Regions from separate parts of the Homo sapiens genome. Here region 1 is linked to region 2. The links come from fine-mapping of genetic effects on gene expression. Tissue or cell type: whole blood. Region 2 holds a variant in brackets; the other region holds the start of a gene. All regions are shown on one strand. Distances are from middle to middle. Region 1 holds the start of ATIC (5-aminoimidazole-4-carboxamide ribonucleotide formyltransferase/IMP cyclohydrolase). Region 2 overlaps ATIC (5-aminoimidazole-4-carboxamide ribonucleotide formyltransferase/IMP cyclohydrolase).

Region 1 (12,847 bases), 29 kb before region 2:
TGGAACTTTCTCCTTCAAATACCCTGTGGCTTGTTATCCCCCACCCAGCCCTCCAGTCCTCACTCAAATGTACCTTGTCAGTAAGAAATTCTCTGCCAGGCCTTCCTAAAGGTGCAGCTACCTCTGCCCTGTCCCTCTTCTCTGCTTTATTTTATCCAAAAGGATAAAGTGTCTCTTCACCTGTGGTCCACAGTGGCTCATGCCTGTAATACCAGTACTTTTGGAGGCCGAGATGGGTAGATCGCTTGAGGTCAGGAATTCAAGACCAGCCTGGCCAACATGGTGAAACCCTGTCTCTACTAAAAATACAAAAATTAGCCGGGCGTGGTGGCATGCACCTGTAATCCCAGCTACTCGGCAGGAGAATTGCTTGAACCCAGGAGGCAGAGGTTGCAGTGAGCCCAGATCGCGTCACTGCACTCCAGCCTAGGTGACAGAGCAAGACTCAGTCTCAAAAAACCAAAAAACATTAAATGCCTTCCTGAATGAATTTTCTTTCTTTAGCTTTTTTTGTCGCTCGGGTTATCTACTAGACCTAATTAAGCAAGCTTATCTTCTTCCAGGCTTCAACTACTACTTGAATTTCATTAATTTTCCACGTTTATTTATCTTTAACCTCACTTTTATTCCTGAATTTCATTTGTATTTCCAACAATTTGCTGTATGATTTTAACTGTGTGCACCAATTACCTAGACTTTAAAATCAATATTTAGAAACTCAAACTTATTTACCCAACCACTCACACTGACCTTAAATTAAAATAAACACATGCCACAACTGTTCTTTCTCTTACATATATTTTTATATTTTGGGTGTTGCCTCACCAGCTACTCATATGACGAAGCTAGAAATGATGGAATCATCCCTAGTTTTTTGTGTCTAATATTTCCTATATGTCACTGATCCCTGCATGCTGCTAATTTTACCTATTTTGAATCGTCTCACATAGATAACCTCTTTTCCACCTTCTTATGTGTGAGTGGATGCAAAACCTTCCTAACCAGTTTCTCTACTTCCTACTATTCCAATTCATTCTTTGTATTATTGTCAGCTTTATATCTCCAAACATCTCCAGGACTTTCAAGAAAAATGTTTGAATTTCATACTAGGTCATAAATTAGCTTAATGTTCTGAACTACAGTAGAGAGGAATTTTATACCAAGCTCCTGGGAATCCCTTTATATGATAAACTACATCCACTTGAGTGGACAAACCCTTGGAGCAAGTCAGCCCAAGATGATGCAGCTTTATTAATCGTTAGAGTCCAATAGGAGATCCAAGACTTGGAAGGGAGATGGAGGTTTTTCAAAGAAAGTGATGAGCTTGGCCAGGCGCGGTGACTCACACCTGTAATCCCAGCACTTTGGGAGGCCGAAATGTGCGAATCACAAGGTCAGGAGATCAAGACCATCCTGGCTAACATGGTGAAACCCTGTCTCTACTAAAAATACAAAAAAAATTAGCCGGATGTGGTGGCGGGTGCCTGTAGTCCCAGCTACTTGGGAGGCTGAGGCAGGAGAATGGCGTGAACCCAGGAGGCGGAGCTTGCAGTGAGCCAAGATTGCTTCACTGCACTCCAGCCTGGGTGACAGAGTGAGAGCGAGACTCCGTCTCAAAAAAAAAAAAAAAAAAAGTGATGAATTTACACAAGAAACAAACAACATAGGGGCAAAATCAGATTATAACACCTTCAAAGAACTGAAACAATTCATGTACATTAAATATTTTAAGGTATATTACTATGATTTTAGGGTCTTCAAGCTTCTCTTTGGAGGTATGTGAAGTAAGAAGAAATGAAAATGTAATCATTATAGTGTATACACGCCCTTTCTGTCTTTCTGAAACAATAATCCTGCGATAAACCATTGGTAAAAGATGCATTCTCATCTTTATGAGAACATCTCCCTTTTCTAAGACACTAGCTTGCTGGTGACTAGATCTTTGAAGACATACCTTGGTGCCCAGAAAGATACCTGATTAGCCAGACCAAGGGAACCAAGAAGATTACACCTCTATTTTACTCTTCTTAGTCTCTTTGCAGTTTGTACTTTCAGTAGACTACCTGTACTTAATTCGCTTCTTAAAATATGATGAGGACTGCAGAAAAAATATTATGTCCATATTACAGGTAAAGCAACAAAGGTCCCCAAAAGATGGAGTGACTTGGCCAGGATCACAAAGCTAGTAAAAAATTCATTTACTCTTTTTGTCATTAACATATTAAGTCCTATCAAGTCGGGATGCTAAAACTATGGGAGAATTAATCAGAGTAAATATCTTTATTTTTATTTTTTGAGACAGAGTCTCGCTCTATAGTGCAGGCTTGAGTGCAGTGGCACTATCTTGGCTCACTGCAACCTCTACCTCCTGGTTCAAGCGATTCTCCCACCTCAGCCTTTCGAGTAGCTGGGATTACAGGCACCGCCACCATGCCTGGCTAATTTTTTGTATTTTTTTAGTAGAGACGGTGTTTCACTATGTTGTCTAGGCTGGTCTTGAACTCCTGAGCTCAGGCAATCCACCCGCCTTGACCTCCCAAAGTGTTAGGATTACAGACGTGAGCCACTGTACCCAACTTACTTTTTGTATTTTTAGTAGAGACGGGGTTTCACCTGTTGGCCAGGCTGGTCTCAAACTCCTAACCTCAAGTGATCCACCTGCTTCAGCTTGCCCAAGTGCTGGGATTACAGACGTGAGCCACCACTCCTAGCCTGTTATTTTTTTATTTTATTTTATTTAAGAGACAGGGTCTTGCTCTGTAGCCCAGGCCGAAATGCAGCCGTGCAACCTTAGCTCACTGTAACCTCGAACTCCCACCTCAGCCTCTCAAGTAGTTAGGACTGCAGGCATGCACTATGTTGCCCAGGTGGGTCTCAAACTCCTGGCCTCAAGTGATTCTCCTACCTCTGCCTCCCAAAGCACTGGGATTACAGGCATGAGACACTACACCAGGCCCCAGAGTAAACATCTGTAAATGGAAGAGTCTGTAATGAAAGAGGCTCTACAAAATCAGTTTAATGCCGTGTTTTCTCTATTATTATTATTTATTTATTTAATTTTTTCTTCTTTTTTTTTTTTTTTTGAGATGGAGTCTCGCTGTCGCCCAGACTGGAGTGCAGTGGCCCGATCTCGGCTTACTGCAGGCTCCGCCCCCCGGGGTTCATGCCATTCTCCTGCCTCAGCCTCCCAAATAGCTGGGACTACAGGCGCCCGCCACCTCACCTGGCTAATTTTTTGTATTTTTAGTAGAGATGGGGTTTCATTGTGTTAACCAGGATGGTCTCGATCTCTTGACCTCGTGATCTGCCCGCCTTGGCCTCCCAAAGTGCTGGGATTACAGGCGTGAGCCACCGCGCCCAGCCTATTTATTTAATTTTTTGAGACACAGAGTCTCGCTCTGTCGCCCAGGTTGGAGTGCAGTGGCGCAATCTCGGTCACCGCAAGCTCCGCCTCCCGGGTTCACACCATTCTCCTGCCTCAGCCTCCCGAGTAGCTGGGACCACAGGCGCCCACCACCACGCCCGGCTAATTTTTTGTATTTTTAGTACAGACAGGGTTTCACTGTGTTAGCCAGGATGGTCATGATCTCCTGACCTCGTGATCCGCCCGCCTCCACCTCCCAAAGTGCTGGGATTACAAGTGTGAGCCACCGCACCCGGCCTCTATTAATATTTTTTAGTTATACTTCATGTGTCTACATTTTCATTCCATCATGAGCTCCTTGAGGACAGTGCTTAGGTGATATTTATCTGTCTTCTGACACTGAGTTTCTGCCATCCAAGCAGAAAAGGCTCAATAAAAATGTATTGAATCGAATAAATATTTGTAATTCACATGACAGACAAATGCATAATGCCGAAGCAACTGTTTATTTCCCCTTATCAATAAATGTCAGCATTGTTTTCTCCTTTCCTTGCTTTCGATTTCCTGTAAAAACCTGATGGTGACTGGCCAAGGAAATATCCTTTTTAAATTCAAATTTGGCAAACACACTGAAGACATGCGATAATCTTAATATATTCCTCGTAGGAATGTGAGAAGTGTTCAGAGCAAAGGGCTAACATATTTAGAGGTCAAAAAATTGATTCCAGGCTGGACGCGGTGGCTCACGCCTGCAATCCCAGCCCTTTGGGAGGCCAAGGCAGGTGGATCACCTGAGGTCAGGAGTTCGAGACCAGCGTGGCCAACATGGCGAAACCCCATCTCTACTAAAAATACAAAAATTAGCCAGGCATGGTGGCACGCGCCTGTAGTGCCAGATACTCGGGAGGCTGAGGCAGGAGAATCGCTTGAACCTGGGAGGCAGAGGTTGCAGTGAGCCGAGATCGCGCTACTGCACTCCAGTGTGGGTGACAGAGCGAGAGTGTGGGTGACAGAGCGAGACTCTGTCTCAAAAAAAAAAAAAAAAATTGATTCTAGTCAATAGGTATTTATTTTGGGGAGTAAAGAGATGGGAAGAATTAGAGAAAGGAAGAGGAAAAACAAAAATAAATAGCATGCAGATAATGAGAAAATAGACTCATTTTTACAGCTGTGAGCTCAGACTAAAAGATAAACAATGCTATTACTTTGGAATATAATTCTAATAACACAAAAAAGACTCATAGACCACAATATGTATTTATTTTGTGGCAAAGGTGTCATTTTTAGAAAGAAACAAATGTGTTCAATTTTGCTTTCCCTGTTTTTAATGAATTAAGAAAGGTCTTCTCTTACCTTCTTTTGACTGTCATCATTCCTCTCATCCAGGAATATTTACAGGTTTGCAAGAAGACACCATCTTTAAGTAGTTTTTAGGCACTTTTACAATACTGACTAAATTGTATAAAATAGTATTATAAATTAATATTTAAATTATAATTTTATGACGTGAAAATCAACAACGAATGTCAATTTCACTTCGTTTTGACTGTCATCTGTGGCCTCTGGAGTCCCTCACTTAAATCATTGGTCCTTGGTTTTATTTTTTAAGCCTATTAAAAAGGAGGATGGGGCCGGGCACGGTGGCTCACACCTGTAATCCCAGCACTTTGGGAGGCTGAGGTGGACAGATCATTTGAGGTCAGGAGTTGAAGACCGGCCTGGCCAACACCGTGAAACCCCATCTCTACTAAATATACAAAAAAAAAAAAAAAAAAGTACAACAACAACAAAAAATTAGACGGGTGTGGAGGCAGAGGCAGGAGAATTTCTTGAACCTGGGAGGCAGAGGTTGCAGTGAGCTGAGATGGTGCCACTGCTCTCCAGTCTGGGAGACAGAGCGAGACCCTGTCTCAAAACAAACAAGCAAACAAGCAAGCAAGCAAACAAACAAAAAACAAGTTGGGCATGGTGGCTCACCCCTGTAATCCCAGCACTTTGGGAAGCCGAGGCAGGCGGATCACCTGAGGTCAGGAGTTTGAGACCAGCTTGGCCAACATGGCGAAACCCCATGTCTACTAAAAATACAAAAATTAGCCGGGCATCGTGGCGCCTGCCTATAATTCCAGCTACTCGGGAGGCTGAGGCAGGATAAACTCTTGAACCCGGGATGTGGAGGTTGCAGGTTGCACGTGACATAGCCGAGATCGCGCCATTGCACTCCAGCCTGGGCAACAAAAGCGAAACTCCATCTCAAAAAAAAAAAAAAAAAACAAAAAAAACAAAAAAACCCAGAAAAACAAAAAAACAACAAACAAAAAGGGAGGATGGTAGATAACTGTCCAGATACTTTCCAGCTTTGCCGCTATATGAACTATTCCTTTTGTTTAGTTTTCAGCATGGGAGCTTCTGGCACTTTTACGTACTTTCCAGCTTCTGGGGACCGGCTGCCTAGAATAACAGGCATTTGCCCCAGAGGCCGTGGAGTGGCCTCACTTTGGGGTCGTGGGCAGATCGCTGGCTCCCACGCCTGGACTTCGGGATCGCAGGCAGGATCCCTTCCAGCCCAAGCACTCCGCCCAGGCGCGCCAGGCAGAGCCCCACCCCATCCCGCCGTTCCCTTCAGCCCCGGGGCGCGGATCTTGCATCTGAAACTGAGCAGAGCAGGGCGCCGGGCAGGGCCGGCGGGCCACGTGATAAGCCCGGAAACAGCTCCGCCCCCTCGCTTCCTGAGCCGCCACATCCCGGCAGCCCTCCTACCTGCGCACGTGGTGCCGCCGCTGCTGCCTCCCGCTCGCCCTGAACCCAGTGCCTGCAGCCATGGCTCCCGGCCAGCTCGGTGAGGCCCTAGCGGAGCGGCGCGGTCTGCGTCCTCGCCTGCGGCCCCCCACGCTCCCGCCTTGGCGGCGGCCGGCGGGACCCGGCACTGCAGGGGCGGCGCTGCGGGATTGAAAGCCAGCGTCCCCGCTCCCCGGCCGGGCCGCAGCCTGCGTGGGGCCCGCCTTAGAGCAGCTCGCGGGTGTAAGACCTGGGGAGGCCCGGACCAGGCCTGCGAACGCAGGGTCCAGGTGCTGGCCTTGCGATTCGAGAATCTCCTCCCCCAGACCCTCCCAAGGCCTTGCAGAACACAGTGCAATGTGCTGCGAATCATGAGAAAAAATGTCTTCTCTTTCAGCCTTATTTAGTGTCTCTGACAAAACCGGCCTTGTGGAATTTGCAAGAAACCTGACCGCTCTTGGTTTGAATCTGGTCGCTTCCGGAGGGACTGCAAAAGCTCTCAGGGATGCTGGTCTGGCAGTCAGGTAAGGCATAGCTAGTTCCATCAGAAAGGAGTGTGATCACATTAACCAGGAAGTATTGTATTCCAGGCACCAGCAGCAAAACGCCTTATTTACTCCTCCCAGTAGCGCTGTGAGGTTGGTGTAATACTTCCCCACTTTATGGGGAAAAAAAGTGAGGCTCAGAGAGATTTAGCAACTTTTAAGACCCTGGACGGCTGGGCTAGGTGGCTCACGCATGTAATCCCAGCACTTTGGGAGGCCGAGGTGGGCTGATCACTTACGGTCAAGAGTTCGAGACCAGCCTGGCCAACATGGTGAAACCCGTCTCTACTAAAAATACAAAAATTAGCCGGTATGGTGGCACACGCCTGTAATCCCAGCTACTGGGAAGGCTGAGGCAGGAGAATCGCTTGAACCTAGGAGGCGGAGGTTGTGGTGAGCCGAGATGGCACTACTGCACTCCATCCTGGGTGACAGAGAAAGACCCTGGACAACACACTGGACAGATTTAGCATCTTCTGCACAAGTTTAAACAGTTGAGTAAGGGAAAAGTAGGATTGGAACCCGTGCTGTTCCTGATTTTAGGACACTAGTCTTAGCCCCTTCCTTAAACAGATTAACTTAGGTGGGCCACTTGTTATGCAAGGAAAACTTCAGTTACTTTGACTGGTGATTTAATAAAACTCGACATCATGAAGATTCCAATTTACCTGCCTTCCCTTAGAATCTCTGGTAACCATATGAAGGTGCAAATCATTCATTCCCACGTTCACAAGCCCTTCATTAGCTGACTAGGCCATGGAAAGAAGGGACTTAGAAATGATTAACCAGGATGCCATTGCTGATGTCAAGGAGTGGCATTCTGGGAGGAGAGGGAGGAAGTCTACTGAAAGGTAGAAAAATGAAAAAAACTATAGGATAGCTATTTAATAAACGGCAGTGAGAGTTGGGAGGAACGAGATGACCACCCCTGAAACATATTTTAGAATGAAAGAGATGAAGGATATCTGTCTGCTTTTTGTTGCCATGTGGAAAATTTGCTTCTTGGTTTCTAGATCCATGTAGAGGTAGGTTATTACCTTTTCTTTGTGCAGTTCCCAGCTATGTGAGCAGTACACAGCTTCCCTAAGTTTAACAAGTTCAGATGGTAAGAATGCCTTACTTTATTAACAAATACATAACTGTATATTTTCGGATGTCTTTTTGCGTCTTGTCTCTGTGGTTTTCATGGGAAACCTGTGAGAATCGTGGCAGGCAAGTTGGCTCTTTGCTCATCAGCAACCGAATGAGAATTCAAAGTCCAGACCTGCGTGCTTTCCATTGGGCCAAGTTGGGTCCTCCTATGGTAATGGAACCTTCGTAAAGCAAAATCCTCATCTGTAGTCTCTTTTTTTTCCCCACCAAACTTTGTATTATGGAAACATTTCAGACACAATCAAAAGTAGAAAAGTATAATGATCCCTTGGGTCCTATATCTGTCACCCACTTTAGGTACTTATCAACTGATTAGTCTTGTTTCTGTACCTATACCCACTCCTCACTTATCTTCATTATGGTCATATCTTCTTTAAAAACTGGAAATGTAAATGTGTTTCTCTTCTATGAAAGGATAAGAAGTTCACCATGAGTGATTTATTTAGACCCCAGCACAGTAAAGTTCACTGAATGAAATGTAAACAACTTGGAGCAATTGTTTTTTCTTCAACAAAGGCCACATTCAGTTGCAGTGGTATTTTATTCAGTTGCAGTGGTATTTTACATATATAAACTCTTATAGTCCTTATAACAACTTTTTAGTTTAGGTAGTGTTATCCTCATTTTATAGGTGAGGAAATTAAGCACAACGTAGTTAAGTAACTCGCTCGAGATTACACAGCTAGTTAAGAGGCCAAGATTTTTTTTTTTTTTCTCTGAGATAGAGTTTCACTCTTGTTGCTCAGGCTGGAGTGCAATGGCACTGTCTCAGCTCACTGCAACCTCTGCCTCCCAGGTTCAAACGATTCTCCTGCCTCAGCCTCCCAAGTAGCTAGGATTACAGGCGCCCGCCACCACGCCTGGCTAATTTTTTTGTATTTTTGGTAGAGACAGAGTTTCACCATGTTGGCCAGGCTGATCTCGAACTCCTGACCTCAAGTGATCGCCCGCCTTGGCCTGCTGGGATTACAGGTGTGAGCCACCGCACCCGAGGCCAAGATTTTGTAGGGGTGGAAAGGTGTGATCCTTTGCTCTCCATCGTAAACGTCACGGCCAATATTTTTATAAGAGAAGACAGGTTATAATAAGAGAAAAGCATAACAAATTTATTTAACAAAGTTTTACATGACATGAGAGCCTTCAGAATGAAGACCCAAAGACAGAGGAAAAACCATCCATTTTTATGTTTAGGTTCAACAAAGAATGGACAGAAAGGTGGAAGTATGATTGGACAGCAAGGATATGGTGTATGCTAGTAGACTGAGGTGGAGAAAGCCAGGAAAGCCTGTCTGTCCAGATTCTTCTTGGCTTCTCTAAAATTCTTTCTCCACCCCCTAAGGATCTCCTGACCTACTAATGGGCAAGGAGATGAGAGGATTTCTTTACGTCCAGCTCCTAGACAGAAAGCCAGTGGAAAGTTAGAATCATAAGTTTAAATCTTATGACTGGCTTTGGGGAAAAAGAGTTTTAGTTTCTGTAAACTGCCCTGGGGAAGAGAAATTCTCATTTCTGTGACTTCAGGGAAGAATGAAGGGTGAGAGGCAAGAGGGCAGGAGAAAGCTATATATATATATTTTTTTAGAGGGTTTTACTCTGTCACCCAGGCTGGAGTGCAGTGGCACAATCATGGCTAATTGCAGCCTCGATCTCCCAGGCTGAGGCAATCCTTCCACCTCAGCCTCCTGAGTATCTGGGACTACAGCTGCACACCAGCATGCCCAACTAATTTTTGTATTTTTCATAGAGATGGTTTCACCATGTTGTCTGTCTGGTCTTGAACTCTAGGGCTTAAGCAATTTTGCCTGCCTTGGCCTCCCAAAGTGCTGGGATTACAAGTGTGATCCACCATGCCTGGACAAGGTCTTGGTTCTGGCTGGGCGCAGTGGCTCACCCCTGTAATCCCAGCACTTTGGGAGGCTGAGGCTGCTGGATCATCTGAGGTCAGGAGTTTGAGCCCAGCCTGGCCAACATGGTGCAACTCCATCTCTGCTAAAAATACAAAAAAGAATCAGCCGGGTGTGGTGGCGTGCACCTGTAATCCCAGCTACTCAGGAGGCTGAGGCAGGAGAATTGCTTGAACCCAGGAGGTGGAGGTTGCAGTGAGCCGAGATTCCACCACTACACTCCAGCCTGGATGACAGAGAGAAACACTGTCTCAAAAAAAAAAAAAAAGATCTTGGTTCTGAGGCTGCTTCTGAGCATATTTTTGGGTGTTGTTATCTGCAATAATTTTATCCCAGGAAGTTAACCATTACCTTGTCATGAGGTAAACTGATGGATTTTAATTAGTGAGTATACAGCAGTGAGCATACATAGAATTATTTCCCGAGACTACAGCCATTATGTATAAATTCTTCAGTTCAAAGGAGTAGCAAGCTTTTTAATTACCCCAAATGTTTAATTCTAGAAATAAATCCGCCTTCTCTAAGTTTTAAGTGACTGTCTTCATTTGGAGGAAATGGATTTTATTTCCTGAACCCCAGGAAAAGAAATTTTGAATTTGAAAACACTTATGTCACCAGTTTGTGGATGTTGGAACTGTGTGTGTCATTGGTCAAACACCAGTCATTTGCAAATGGCTCCCCTTAACAGGAGAATCTACCCAGGAAATTCCGTATCTTACTGGCAGAACTTGCTGCTTTAAAGTGTTTATTATAGTCTCAGCTACTTGGAGGATTACTTAATAAGCCCAGGAGTTCTAGGCTGCCATGGACTGTAATCTTGCCTGTGAATAATCACTGTACTCCAGGCTGGGCAACATAGTGAGATCCCATCTCAAAAACTATATATGTTGATTGTAGAAAATTCGAAAATATGGACAACTATAAAGAAGGTAGTAAAAATGGATTGTAATTCTTAACATGCTAGTATATTTTTCTTCAAGCATTTTTATAAGCATGTACTTTATTTCATAGCTTACACAGAAGATAGATGCAGTTTTGCTTCCTGCTTTATTTATTTTTATGTATTTATTTATTTTTTGAGACGGAGTTTTGCTGTTGTTGCCCAGGTTGAAATGCAGTGGCACAATCTTGGCTCACTGCAACCTCCGCCTCCCGGGTTCAAGCGATTCTCCTGCCTCAGCCTCCCAAGTAGCTGGGATTATAGGCATGCCCCACCATGCCTGGCTAATTTTGTATTTTTAGTAGAGGCGGGGTTTCACCATGTTGGTCAGGCTGGTCTGGAACTCCCTTACCTCAGGTGATCCATTCGCCTTGGCCTCCCAAAGTGCTGGGATTACAGGTGTGAGCCACCCCACCTGGCCCCTGCTTTATTTTTTCTTATATATTGTGGGCATTTTTACACACCATTACAACTTATAAAGTCTGCCAGAGTGTTCGTGGTTACGACTTTCTAGGGGTCTGCTTTGTGATATGGATTAATATTTACTGTCCTTCACTTGACCCTTTGTCACATTGTGTGATTATTTTTTCTAGTTTACTTTTTTTTCCCATGTAAAACTTTTTATTTAACATTTCTGTAATCAGAACTCTCAATCTTTTGTTTAAAACTTGGAAAGCATTCCTCACATATTTAATTTTGCTACATGCATGATTTTTTAAATGCTAAACCTTTGATTCATAAGGAATATATTTTTGTTTGGGTTTAACCCGTTATTCCAATAGCAACACCACTTTATTAAACAGTCTTTTATGTCTTCACTCACTTGATATGCCATCTTCATGTGTTGTTGTTGTTGTTTTTTGAGATGGAGTCTTGCTCTGTCGCCCAGGCTGGAGTGCAGTGGCATGATCTCGGCTCACTGCGACCTCCAACTCTTGGGTTCAAGTGATTCTCCTGCCTCAGCCTCCCCAGTAGCTGGGATTACAGGTGCCCGCCATCACGCTCGGCTAATTTTTTGTATTTTTTTAGTAGAGCTGGGGTTTCATCATGTTGGCCAGGCTGGTCTCAAACTCCCCTCCTCAGGTGATCCACCTGCCTCAGCCTTCCAAAGTGCTGGGTTTACAGCCATGAGCCACCGTGCCCGGCCAAGGATATTTTTAATGCTTTTTGTTACATACTGCCAAATTCTCAGTTGTATGTCTTAGTAATATTTAATGAGTATGGCTTATGATTCAGTTTCTAAATGCTCTGAAAATTATAAAACCAGTGCTGTAGTAGTTACCAATTATCCCTGAACATACACAACAGTTAGGAAATAAATTAAATAAACTTTTTTTCGGAAGTAAATAGAATTTTACTTAAGAAATAAAATATAGTGAAATACTTTAAAAAATCAGAATTTTCACGTTGAATTCAGGCTCAAAATCTCTTGAAATGAAAACAGTAGATGCTTTGAATAGTGAAAATTACAATTCAGCCACACCAGTAGTACCATTCTGTTTATCTGTTTTTCAGAGATGTCTCTGAGTTGACGGGATTTCCTGAAATGTTGGGGGGACGTGTGAAAACTTTGCATCCTGCAGTCCATGCTGGTAAGTGGTTGGTATCTTTAATGTAAAAACAGTCAGTGGTTTCCAGGAATATTTTAGTTGATAGCGTCCTAAAATAAAGGAAGAAAAAGGCTCAAGAGAAATTTACATATAAAGTTAATGTTATGAAGTTGCTGCCAGATTTCATAATACGTTAGAACTGGTTTAAAATCCAGCTTGTCTTACTACTTGATGAATTCAGATTGTTTTCCTCTGCTTGCTATTAGTCCTGACCTGATACCTAATTTAGAGTCTGGTGTTTCCTGCTCAAGTTGCTGAAGATATTTAGATTTCATCGTATGAAAATACTTTTAAAATAGTTCAAACTTAGAAGAAAGCATCACAGCGTAACTGACTTGCAAAGGAATTTTTTTTTTCAAAGTGCTTTACATTTGTTCGTTCACCTAAGAATGAATTGTATATAAACCGAAACGGCAAGAAACTGGTATCCTCCTAGTTTGTCAGTTGTGGTACAATTTGGTGAATAAAGCTGAATGGCTACAGATCATCAGACAAGCCATTGACTTACAGAAACGCATAGACTGTTCTGGAACTAGCAACAGTTTTGTAAAATTCCT
Region 2 (12,847 bases):
GCCTGCCACCCTGTTTTTGTGAATATAGTATATATAAATTGGTCCTTCACAGAAAAAGTTTTCTGAGTGTCACTCTAGAGGGTAAAATTAAAGAATACTTTCTTACTGGTTACTTCAGTTAAATGACTTATTGATCTGTTAAAATCTTATGTAAACAGTAAGATTAGCTTTAGAGTAATGAATTTTATATGACAGTGGAGAATTTTATTACTTTTTCTGTATCAGGATACTTTGTGATAAATACCTCATTTTAATTTTATTTACAGGGGCTGATAGGATGTCTTCATTTGGTGATTTTGTTGCATTGTCCGATGTTTGTGATGTACCAACTGCAAAAATTATTTCCAGAGAAGTTAGTGGACATTCATGTATCTTAATCTGTGTGTTGAATAAAGCTTTATTTGTTCATAATGTTAATTGAAACCATAACCTATAATATTTATATTTATAATATCTTTTAATTAGCTAAGTTTATCATTTAATGTTCATATTTTAAATAGAACATTAATCTTAAATTGTTAATTTTGAAATGTAGTGAATTATTGTTTCAGATGGATATTTGGCTGTTATGATGTTTTTTACTTATATATTTATTTTAAATTCTTTGTTGTCTTCATGCCAAAGTTACTGTTTCTGAAGAGCAGAAGTTGTAATTTTAGGTGGTGATGCGATATAATCCATCTTACTGCATAGTGGGTAAAAAACAGAAACTACATTAATAAACTTACCCCATCAGTTGAATACCAAACAGGTATTCCAGACAGGTGGGGGTACTGTTGGTAGTAGGAAGACAGGAAGAAAAGAGAAAAAGATTAAATAGCTCAGAAAGGGGAAAAAAATAAGCAGAGGTGAAGGCTGAAGGAGCATGTGGCTTGGCACTATTTTGTTGCTTTAGGATTCTTTCCATGGCCACTGCCATCCCTGGGTTACAGGTTACAGGAGGGCTGTGACATTTGTATCTTTCGTCATGTCAAATCTCTGATTTAATCTGGTCTTGCTGTTAAGGAAAACGCCTTGCCGGAAGAGGTCATTTAACCATGTACTAGGAGAGTCAGGACTAGAATGTGCTCTTGCTCATTCAAAACACTCCCTGAAGAAATATTTCCTCCTGAGGTACATGTGTTAAGAGCAAATCAGTCATATTTTCTTAGTTTAAACTGAAACGAACAAAAACTTGGAGAGGACAGAAAGTTAGGATCTGCTATACAGAAAGCTGTATTCTAATAGATTTCTCTTTTCAAGTATAGCGTTAGCATTGTTTGTTGGAGGCAGAAACCAGAATATGCTGCCACATTATTTAAGACTGATAATTGCTGCTAGATTTTTTTAAGAGGTGTTCTCTGATTTTTAAAAATAGAAATTAAAATTTAATATTTTTGCAGGTATCTGATGGTATAATTGCCCCAGGATATGAAGAAGAAGCCTTGACAATACTTTCCAAAAAGAAAAATGGAAACTATTGTGTCCTTCAGGTGAGTGCAATTCATGTTTGAAGCGGTAATTTGCTCTTTTATTCTGTGTCTCTTTCTCCCTTGTTTACTCTTTCCTTTATACTCATACCCTTCTAGTTTATCCTTATTATAGTTTATTTTCCCCAATCCTGCATTTAAAAAAATACTATTAACTTGGGGTTTTGAGATGAGAGTAGCTTTCTTACCCTCAATTTTAACTTTTTGCTGGTTGTGATGGCTCATGCCTATAATTTCAGCCACTTGAGAGGCTGATGTGGGAGGATGGCTTGAGGCCAAGAATTGGAGGCTGTATTGTGGTACTATGATGCCTGTGAATAACGACTGCACTCCAGCCTTGGCAGTGTAGTAAGACCATGTCTCTAAAATACTAATAATAGTAACAATATTTAATGGAAAGTCTCTCCATCCTTCTGTTACCTTTTGAAAAGATAACTATTTTAAATTTCTTGCTTATCTTTCCTGAAATAGTCTATGTATTCAGCAAATATTTGCATGTGCATTTCTTTTTCTATTTTCCTATTGACACAAGTGCACCCTGCTTCACCTTCTTGGAAGTTTGTCCTGTATCTGTGTATTTTAACTTACCTAGACAGTCACCAATCTTTAGCTACTACAAATACCCCTGCAGTGAATAACCTAGAAAAGTCCTGAGAGTGAAATTAAGGCTTAATAACAAGCTCTATGTATATTGGTAATCTTAATTGATACTGCCCCTTTTAGATGTTGTAGGCAAATTCATTGTCCTAACTGAAATATATAAGGATGCCTGTTTCCCAACACTTTTGTCAGCATTGTGGTTTTATACTTTTAAAAAGTCTCTGCAGTTAGAAAATGGCATCTCAATGTAGTTTTAACATTGTGTGTGGTATGAGCATCTTTTCATGTTTGAATGTTTTTATTCCTTTCTATGAACTGTCTTTCCATATTCTTTGATGATTTTTCTACTAAGTTGTTGTTGGCTTTTTTTTTTTTTTTAACTGATTTTTATGAGCTCTTCTGTATTGGGAAAAGTAGCTCATGGTCTAAGATTATGCATTGATAAAGCAAAGAGTTATTTCAATTTAAAGTAAAAATTCCTAATGCTACTTTTCATAGTATTGATATCAGAACTCTGTGGAATCCTAATTCCTTACAAGGAAAGTTATTAAGTATATTCTTTTGATTGTAAGATACCAATAATTTTATAGTTCACCATAGATTCCATGTCAGCTATTTAAGGAAAGAAGAGAATACCACATTAAAGTTAATACTTATTTTTTTTTAGCCACTTGACAGTCTGTTGCCCAGGCTAGAGTGCAGTGGTGTGATCTTGGCTCACTGCAACCTCTGCCTCCTGAGTTCAAGCGATTTTCCTGCCTCACCCTCCCAAGTACCTGGGACTACAGGCATGTACTACCAGGCCTGGCTGAGTTTTGTATTTTTAGTAGAGACAGGGTTTCACCATGTTGGCCAGGCTGGTCTCAAACTCCTGACCTCAAGGGATCTGCCCGCCTCGGCCTCCCAAAGTGTTGGGATTACAGGCGTGAGCCACCGCGCCTGGCCCCCAGTTTCTTAATCAAGTTTTTTTTTTGTTGTTGTTGTTAAGAGTGTTATGTACTTAACAACCATTAGCATTTTCTTGTAGCATCATGGAAAATATTTTCCAAAACCTGAGTCATTTTCTTGATCTCTTTAACACCTGATAGTTGGAGAGTGTCAAAGGAATATCAGGACTTCATTGGTATTTTACTTATTTGAGAATTTGGCTTAGTTTGCACATTGGACGCATGATTATAAGCATGAGACAACTTATCCCTCTACCTGACTAATGATAAGTTTCTCCTAGCATCAGTTAATAGGAGAGCATATCAATTTTAGAAATTTTATAGTGCATAATACAAAGGAACATTTTAGAATTCAAGAAAATGTAGATTAAACAGAACTAATATTTACGGGGTCTTGCTTATAAATTATATGTCAGGGCTTTCTAAATCAAAGATCATCCAAAGCATAAAGAAGAAATAGTGTCAAGTTTAAAAAAATATCCAGGGAGAGAGTAGTGTTACACGTATTGTTCCACACACCTTAATGTTCTTTCGGCTCAAAATTTGGGAGAGGAAGATGGCAGTAAATGATACAAATTCCTTCCAAATAGCAAAGACACAGATTACAAATCCTGTTTTCTCACTTTTAGCTTTCAATTCCTGGGTTAGCTGGGTATTTTGTAACAGATTTTTAGAAAGGAAAATTAGAATTTAATTTTTGTGCCATTGCTTATTTAATTAGCACATCTGTTTTATCTGCTGACCTTCCAAAAGAACCATATAGGTAGTAACTTAACCAAAAATACACTCACTGGAATCATTGTTTTTTAACATGTTGTATATAGGTTGTAAAATCTATAAAATACTATTGGGTAGTAAAATCTATAAAAGACTTTGGAGAAAAATATTAGCGCCTGGCTGTTGTATCATACCAGAATGTTGAATTGTATCATACCAGAATGATTTAACACATCATTTGTTGTGTGAGAAAAATTAGAAAATTAGAAAACTGTAAAAAATTAGAAACATGCATATAACTTTACTTACAATGAAATCTTTTGTATATAAATTAAATGAAAAATTTGAGGGAAGTGGAGAGATTAACTTTAACTTTTAAAATTTGTATTTTAGATGGACCAATCTTACAAACCAGATGAAAATGAAGTTCGAACTCTCTTTGGTCTTCATTTAAGCCAGAAGAGAAATAATGGTGTCGTCGACAAGTCATTATTTAGCAATGTTGTTACCAAAAATAAAGATGTAAGTTGGGAAGTATCTGAACTGACTGCTAGTAACTTCCATTGGTCTGTTTTCAATACTTAATGAGCTTTACATTTATTAAGGTCTGGATTTGGAACTGGTCTGTATGCACACGGCTAGCTAGCTTATCTTTGAGTTGTCACATAAGCTTTGGAGTTTAAGAAATGAATCAAAGGCCATGTTAGAAGCTTCTGTGCATATGTACACACTAGAGATAAGTAGCTTTAATTGTGTATAAATGGGATCATGTCTTCCATAATCTGACTCCTGTAACTTGGCTTTTTTCCATGTGCTAGGCTACAAATGTGTTTTTATATCAATACATATAGATGCTGGGTGCAGTAGCTGACATTTGTAATCCCAACACTTTGGTAGGCCAAGGGGCAGCTCTCTTGAGGTCAGGAGTTTAAGACCAGCCTGACCATGTAGTGAAACCTTGTCTCTAGAAAAAGTACAAAAATTAGCCTGGCGTGGTAGCTGCGCCTGTAGGTCCAGCTACTCGAGAGGCTGAGGTGAGAGGATTGCATGAGTCTGGGAGATCAAGGCTGCAGTGAGCCGTGTTTGTGCCACTGCACTCCTCTCTGGGTGACAGAACAAGATCCTATCTCGAAAATAAATGCATATTCATATCTTTATCTGAAAGTCCATGTGGCAGTCAGTCCATGTGTAGATGTACTACGATGGATATTTATTGTTCTTATTTTTACCCTGATTGATTGATTTATTTTTTTATTTTATTTTTTCTGAGACAGAGTCTTGCTCTGTCACCCAGGCTGGAGTGCAGTGGTGCGATCTCGGGTCACTGCAAGCTCCGCCTCCCGGGTTCACGCCATTCTCCTGCTTCAGCCTCCCAAGTAGCTGGGACTACAGGCGCCCGCCACAACGCCTGGCTAATTTTTTTTGTATTTTTAGTAGAGACGGTGTTTCACTGTGTTAGCCAGGATGGTCTCGATCTCCTAACCTCGTGATCTGCCCACCTCAGCCTCCCAAAGTGCTGGGGTTACAGGCGTGAGCCACCATGCCCAGCCTTTATTATTTTTTTTAAGAGACTTTTGAATGTTTTTATCCCTTTGAAGCTCGCTCTGTTTGAATGTTTTTATTCCTTTGAAGCTTGCTCTGTTGCCCAGGCTGGAGTGCAGTGGTGCGATCATAGCTCACTGCAACGTGGATCTTCTGATGGATATTTAGATTGCTTACATTTTCAGTGCTATGATCAATGTTTTTATATAGACAAGTTTTTGGGCTTGTGCTCTTTGTTACCTTGTAGTAAGGACACGTTCCTAGGATAATAATGGTGATTTTTGTGTTTTGGATATATTATCTCATTTAACACTTAGGTCACTCTATGGGGGTGACTACCATCGTGTCAATTGTGAAGATCACAAAATTGTACCATAAAGGACAATTAAGAAATTTGACCGGAGTTACACAATAAAGAATGGACAAGCTGACATTTATTTTTTGGAGTATCTTAATTGGGCCTTCAGTTTGAAGGATGTTTGTCCTAGGTCTAAAGTAGGCTGTGCTTGTTGTTCAGTACTTTGCAGGAATCATTCCATTGCTTTCTGGTCTGTCTGGCTGATAGCCTGGAATTTTTTATTGAGTGCTAGGCATTGGGTATGAAAAAACTGTAGCGATATTTTGAGGGCTGGATGGTGTTATTTTTCTCTCCAGAGTTGACTTGTCCTTCTTTTGGGCAGATAAGGTGTAGGAGGTATCTTCATTCTGTCAGGAATTGTTGAGCTTCCTAAAGGCTAAATAGGAATTTAGCCTTCAGTCTTTGTGAGGACTGGTCTGTTCATGGTTCATTCCTGCTCCTGAATCCCTAGGTATCTACTGCTGTACGCTGAACTCGGCTTTTGTCCCTTAGTCCTCTAAGACTGCCAAAAGTTGTGCTCAGCCAATTTACCTTTAGTTTATTGCATGCAACTTGGAAAATGCCTTGAGGAGAAAAGCATAGACTGTCAGGCCCATTTCTTACTGCTTCCATTTTCTCTGGGATCTTTGTCTGTTAGCACTTGCTGTCTGTCCGCTCTGCCCAGCATTTCTGTTTGTTACTAAAAGAGGATTGGTCTCTTAAGCTATTTGCTGTAACAGAAGGAGATGAGGGGCTGCAGCTTGCTCCCAGGTCTGAATCCTGAGGCCTTTTCAGTAGAATTGCTGGAAATAAGCCTTAAAATCTTTATCCAGAGAGTTCTGTCTGTTGATAAGCATACGACGATTAACATATCTTTTTTGTTTGATTTAATGGATATTCTTTCATTTCTATCTTTGACAATTAATGGTGTCCTGAAGTAAAGAAACATGTAGGCATTATACATAGAAATATCTTTCAGCCCTTTGGAATCCACTCTGGTTGGTTCATGTACTTTGAAAAATACTGAATGGATATTGACCTAGATTCCATGGTACCATGTTGAGAATTGTGCCTAGCTACTGAGAGTCTTTTTTCTAAGGTTTGTAGATATTGGATTCATTAATAATTTAGTGATCTTGATAGGTTTTGTGCCTCTGGATATTTTTTATAAGAGTGGTAGGTATGATCTTAATCGTTTATCTAAACTCTTTCCTTGCTTCATATGAATTCTTAGTAGAAATTTGGAAACTTAAGGATGAGAGAATGATAGCTTTGTTCTCCTTTCTGTTTTACCCGTCTTTTTAAGTGGATTTTTGTTAACATTCCAGCCTCAGAATTATTAGGTCTGGAACCATTTCAGTCCTGAGAGAGCCAGACAGGTGGATGGAATGTTTATTAATACTGAACATGTTTGAATTATTTCCTCTTCTCCCATTTTTCTTGAATAGTGCTTTAATTGTGTTAACTATTTGTAGCATGTTTCTAAGACTGGATTCCCTTACTCCCAGTCCACTGGCATTTCTCGTATGCCTTGATCCCAACCCAGGATGCCAAGTGTATTAGTTTTTATCACGCTGCTATGAAGAAATTCCTGAGACTGGGCAATTTATAAAGAAAAGAGGTTTAATTGACTCACAGTTCCACACGGTTGGGGAGGCCTCAGGAATCTTATAATCATGGCAGAAGGCACCTCTTCAGAGGGCGGCAGGAGAGGGAATGAGTGCAAGCGAGAGAAATGCCAGACGCTTACTGTCAGATCTCATGAGACTCATTCATTGTCATGAGAACTACATGGGGGAAACTGCCCCCATGATCCAGTTACCTCCACCTAGTCCTGCCTGTTGACACATGGGGATTATTATAATTCAGGGTGAGATTTAGGTGGGGACACAGCCAAACCGTATCACCAAGATTATCTTTGAAGGTCTAGACATCTATGAAGCTGGCTTTTGCTACTAAGTTTTCTGGGAACCAGAGGAATCAGATTTATAGTTGATGACTCAAATAGCAGATAAAGATAAAAGATATATAACATTAATAATACCTTAGAGTAATAAATTCTTAAGAAATCCTAATAGCTTTTTTTAAATTAAACTTTTTAATTTTGAGATAAAAGTTGTAGATTCATATACAGTTGTAAGAGTTCCCATGTAACCGTTACCCTATTTCTCCTAATGCTAGCATTTGTCACACTACAGTACAGTTCCACAACCATGCCATTGACATTGATAACAGTT[G/A]AAGACACAGGGCATTTCCAACACTGCAGTGATCCCTCATGTTCTTCTGTAGCCGGGCTCACTTGATATGGCTTCCACCCTCTCCTTACCCTTGGGCAACCACAAATCTGTTTTTCCTTTCTATAATTTTCATTCATCGTGCATTCATGTACAGTTTTTGTGTGTTTGTGTGAGCATAAGGTTTTTGTCTTTTGGGGAAACAGGGTCCAACTCTGTTGTCCAGGCTGGAGTGCAATGGCTCGGTCTTGGCTCACTGCAATCTCCGCCTCCCGGGTTCAAGCGATTCTCCTGCCTCAGCCTCCCAGGGAGCTGGGATTACAGGCATGCGGCACCACACCTGGCTAATCTTTGTATTTTCAGTAGAGACGGGGTTTCACCATGTTGGTCAGGCTGGTCTTGAACTCCTGACTCAGGTGATCTACCCGCCTGGGATTACAGGCATGAGCCACTGTGCCCAGCCTAAACGTAAGTTTTTATTTCTCTTTGATAAATGCCCAGGGTTGTTAACTGCTTTGTGGTATGGTAGTTGCATGTTTAGTTTACTAAGAAACTGCTGAATTGTTTTCCAGAGTGGCTTGTACCATTTTGTATTCCCACCAGCAATGGATGAGTGATCCAATGTCTCTGCATCCTTACTAGCTTTTGGTATTGCTACTTTTTTTTTTTTTTTAAAGACATGGGATAGTTGTGTAGCAATCTCTCACTGATTTTAATTTGCATAATAGCTCATGATGTTGAACATTTTTTTGTGTACTTATTTGCTACATGTGTATCCTTTTTGGTGAAAATGTCTGTCTTTTGCCCATTTTCTAATTAAATTTTTGATTGTTACTGAGTTTTTTTGTTTTGTTTTGAGATGAAGTCTCGCTCTGTCACCTAGACTGGAGTGCAGTGGCATGATCTTGTCTCACTGCAGCCTCCACCACCCGGGTTCAAGTGGTTCTCCTGTCTCAGCTTCCCAAGTAGCTGGGATTACAGGAATGCGCCACCACACCTGGCAAATTTTTATATTTTTAGTAGAGATGGGGTTCACCATGTTGGTCAGGCTGGCCTGGAACTTCTGACCTCAGGTGGTCCACCCGCCTTGGCCTCCCAAAGTGCTAGGATTACAGGCATGTGCCACTGCGCCTGTCCTGTTACAGAGTTTTTAAAGTTTTTTTATGTTTTAGGTGCTAGTTTGTTGTTGGATATGAGGTTTGTTAATAATTTTCTCCTAGTTCGTAGCTTGTCTTTTCATCCTCTTTAATGAGGAATCTTTTACAGAGGAAAAGTTCTTAATTTTACTGAAGTCAAATTTATCAACTTATCTGTTGGCTGTAGCAAATATCCTCTGTCCATTTAGCATACAGACGTGGACTATCATCCTTCTTTTCCATTTGTATTCATGCCTGATACTAAAGATAGTGATATTTTTGGGCGTTATTCTTGTTGTTCTATTTGGACTGGTAATTCCTAATGGTTTTTGAACAGTTTCAACTTAAGTTATTCTAAACAAAAGAGAAAATGATCGTAATTTGATTTTTCCAAAGTCTTGGCTGTCTGTGTGCATCATAACGATTTGTGATGTCTATGAAACAATTCTCCGCATTGGTTCTGAACGTAAATTTTACCATGTCTCCAGATATTTAAAAGTACTCTGGTCAAGAAAATATTGTTTGTCAGTTTTGGAATGGATATGGTAGTTCTTACCTCATGTGATATAAAAAGGCTTAATCCACAATTGCTACAAAATAACATGAGTTTGTGTCTATGGATGCATTGTGCTAAGTTCCACCCCAAATGTGTTAAATATTTAAGTAAATCATGGTAGTGTGTAGGAGAACAGTTAATTTCCCTCTGTCATTTGAGTGGTATAACTATGTTGTAGGTCTTTTACATTAAATAGAACTAAGAAACTTAAAGTTGGCCAGGTGTGGTGGCTCACACCTGTTGTAATCCTGGCACTCTGGGAGGCTGAGGCACGTAGATGACTTGAGCTCAGGAGTTCGAGACCAGCCTGGCCAACATGGTGAAACCCCATCTCTACTAAAAATACAAAAATTAGCCAGGCATGGTGGTGCATGCGCCTGTAATTGAAGTGTGAGAATCTCTTGCACCCGGGAGGTGGAGGTTACAGTGAGCCGAGATTGTGCCGTTGGAGATTGTCCCATTGTGCCTGGGAGACAGAGTGAGACTCTGACTCAAAAAAACCACAAAAAATAATATTTAAAAAAAGAAGCTTAAAGTTAAATGAGTTTAAAAGGCCCCATGCAATTTACCATTGTGTATGTGTTTCAGTTGCCAGAGTCTGCCCTCCGAGACCTCATCGTAGCCACCATTGCTGTCAAGTACACTCAGTCTAACTCTGTGTGCTACGCCAAGAACGGGCAGGTAAGTGGGCTGTTGGACTCGCCTTCGGGGGACTGTTGTTTTACGAAATGATATTTAAACATCCGTCTGCCTTAGATATTGGACAGCTTGAAAGGGAATATTTGCCAAATGTTTGTCTTTTGTGTTTGTCAGTGTTTCCTCAGTACCCTGGTGGGCTGTTAAAACTAATGATGATCAGAAAATATCTTTGGAACCAGGTACTCAAAGTAGTTGTGCTGCTTCTTGCCTTGAATAGGTTGGCACATTTTGGATTAGTGAGACTCTAATAGCTGTTACAAAACTGGATTATTTCCTTTCCTTTTCCCCCATTGGTATTATTTCCAGGGAAGAGGAGGTAAGTTACGGTACTGCCACCCACCAGCCTATATTTTTGCAGCCTGCAGGGTATTTTCACATTATTTCTTATGTTGTCTTATCAAGAATCTGCTGAGTAGAAAGACTGCTAGACTAGGAGTTAACTTCATCTTTAAAAAGTTAGGTTCATTGAGGCATAATTTGTATACAGTAGAATTCACCTTTTTAAAGTACAGTTTGACCAGTTTTCACAAATTTCACAGTATGTGACCGCTGCCACAATTAAATACCAAACATTTCTCACTGTGTGACGTTAAGCAAGATATTACACTTCTTTCCTAGTGTCCCGAGCCTCAGAATACAAGATGGAGCTGGTTCATCTCTGAGGTCTCTGCTAGCCTTTTCTTCACCTGGTGTCCTGAGCTTATCTCTTGGCATTTGTTAAATTATTTGGCCCACAAGTGACAGGGAGGTGGGTGGATATGAATTAGCCTATGGCCTGGAAGACCCCAGATTGCCAGTCTCTGTAGTAACAAACTCCTGGGAGATTGTGTCTACTGGTGTCAGGTTCTAAGAAGTTCTGTAAGTCCATGTAGAATGAGTGCTTCATTCCTGATGTTGAGGAGGAGGCGGCTGCCCAGGTATTTGTGGTCTCTTTTATTCTCTTGTAGCTGTGGGCAGGGTTGCCAGCAGCTGTGCTCAGAAAGAGATGGACTGTTGGGCAGACAGCTTAGGGGCTGTTCATTATAGGAACTAAAACCAGAAAACACACCTGTGCATTTAAGTCCTTGTTGCTTAGAATTCAACCCATAGAAATAGAGGAAAGAAGGAAGAACATTTGTACCTGGCGGAATTGTTTCTACTTTTAGCTACCCATGTCAGATCCTTATCTCAATTTCTGAGAGTTGATATTTTAACTGTAATTTATACACTGGGGCAAACAAAAGACTTTCAAGTAACCATAGTTATTTTTGTGGTCATTAGTTTTATTTATTTATTTATTTATTTTTTATAGAGACAGGGTCTTGCTCTGTTGCCCAGGCCAGAGTACAGTGACATGATCATAGCTCATTGTAGCCTTCGACTCCTGGCCTCAAGCGGTCCTACCACTTCAGCCTCCTGAGTAGCTGGGACTGCAGGTGTGCGCCACTACCCCTAGCTATTTTTTAATTCTTATTTTTTGTAGAGATGAGATGTTGCCATCTTGCCCAGGCTGGTCTCCTGAGCTCAAGCAATCCTTCTGTCCTAACCTCACAAAGTGCTGGGATTACAGGCATGAGCCAGTGCACCCAGCATTGGTCATTTATTTTAACTTTTTTTTTTTTTTGACCTCAAACCATCAATTTTATTGAATTGTAGATTATTAATAGTCATATGTCACATATCACTGAAGAGGTATAAATAGTAGTTATAAACAAACCTCTTACTCCACCCCTTTTAATGACTTAAAAATTATTTATATTTCTCTTATTTTGGCCTGATATGTTCTTCCACAAAACTAATAAATAGGTTTTGGAGAATGTGCACAAAAGATCCTTTTGAGAAGAAAGTGTCTTTGGAAGAGGTGTTCACTTTAATGTCTGTGTTCCTCAGGTTATCGGCATTGGAGCAGGACAGCAGTCTCGTATACACTGCACTCGCCTTGCAGGAGATAAGGCAAACTATTGGTGGCTTAGACACCATCCACAAGTGCTTTCGATGAAGTTTAAAACAGGAGTGAAGAGAGCAGAAATCTCCAATGCCATCGATCAATATGTGACTGGAACCATTGGCGAGGTGAAAGACTTGGCATTGGGTTCTCGGCTGTGTTAATATTCAGTTCAACCCTTTATGTGTAACAGATTTTAACTTCATCACCACACAGAGAAAAAGATACTTTCATTGAAATTCTATGTTGTCTAAAATTGATCATTGAAACTTCTTACACATTTCTCATGTTCTTCTGTCTCATGTAACTTTCTTCATTGTTTTTGACCCCTTTCTGAAACCACAGTCCTCTGTCTTTTTAAATTGCAGCCTTGGTGTAGGTTTGTATATTTGTACTTCCCCTGTTGATTATAAGCTTTTGATGACAAGGACTGCTTTTCACCTACGTCGAGGTGCCTGCCACCACGTCATGCATGGTGCTTGCTGTCCGATGGGTCTGTATTCAACATTAAATACAAATTGCCTGACGGCAGGTAACCCTGGGGTCTTCTCCCACCACATTTTCTACATGTGCCATTAATAACTTGATACATTTTGTTACATTTCATGTTCTTCTGTTTGAAGAAGGTATGTGGGAACATTACAATCGCAAACGTTAGGTAGGTAGCCCGCCAGAAGAAAAGATCT

The links.
Region 1: ATIC starts here. The variant in region 2 is fine-mapped to the expression of ATIC in whole blood (TOPMed, PIP above 0.99).

The regions. Positions count from the first base shown.
Region 1 is chr2:215,305,962-215,318,808 of GRCh38, forward strand. It overlaps ATIC (5-aminoimidazole-4-carboxamide ribonucleotide formyltransferase/IMP cyclohydrolase), which reads left to right and starts at 6,098. Exons shown (of 16, transcript NM_004044.7): 1 at 6,098-6,200; 2 at 6,537-6,663; 3 at 12,196-12,272. The coding sequence starts at 6,182. It overlaps LOC124907975 (a long non-coding RNA gene), which reads right to left and starts at 6,011. Exons shown (of 2, transcript XR_007088075.1): 1 at 4,718-6,011. RefSeq lists an enhancer at 5,802-6,452 and silencers at 5,983-6,062, 6,073-6,442.
Region 2 is chr2:215,334,653-215,347,499 of GRCh38, forward strand. ATIC (5-aminoimidazole-4-carboxamide ribonucleotide formyltransferase/IMP cyclohydrolase) reads left to right here. Exons shown (of 16, transcript NM_004044.7): 10 at 267-352; 11 at 1,383-1,472; 12 at 4,127-4,255; 13 at 10,127-10,219; 14 at 12,107-12,289. Among named protein-coding and RNA genes, the nearest start is that of ATIC, 29 kb to the left of the region's middle. The variant G/A (reference allele first, on the strand shown) is at 7,850.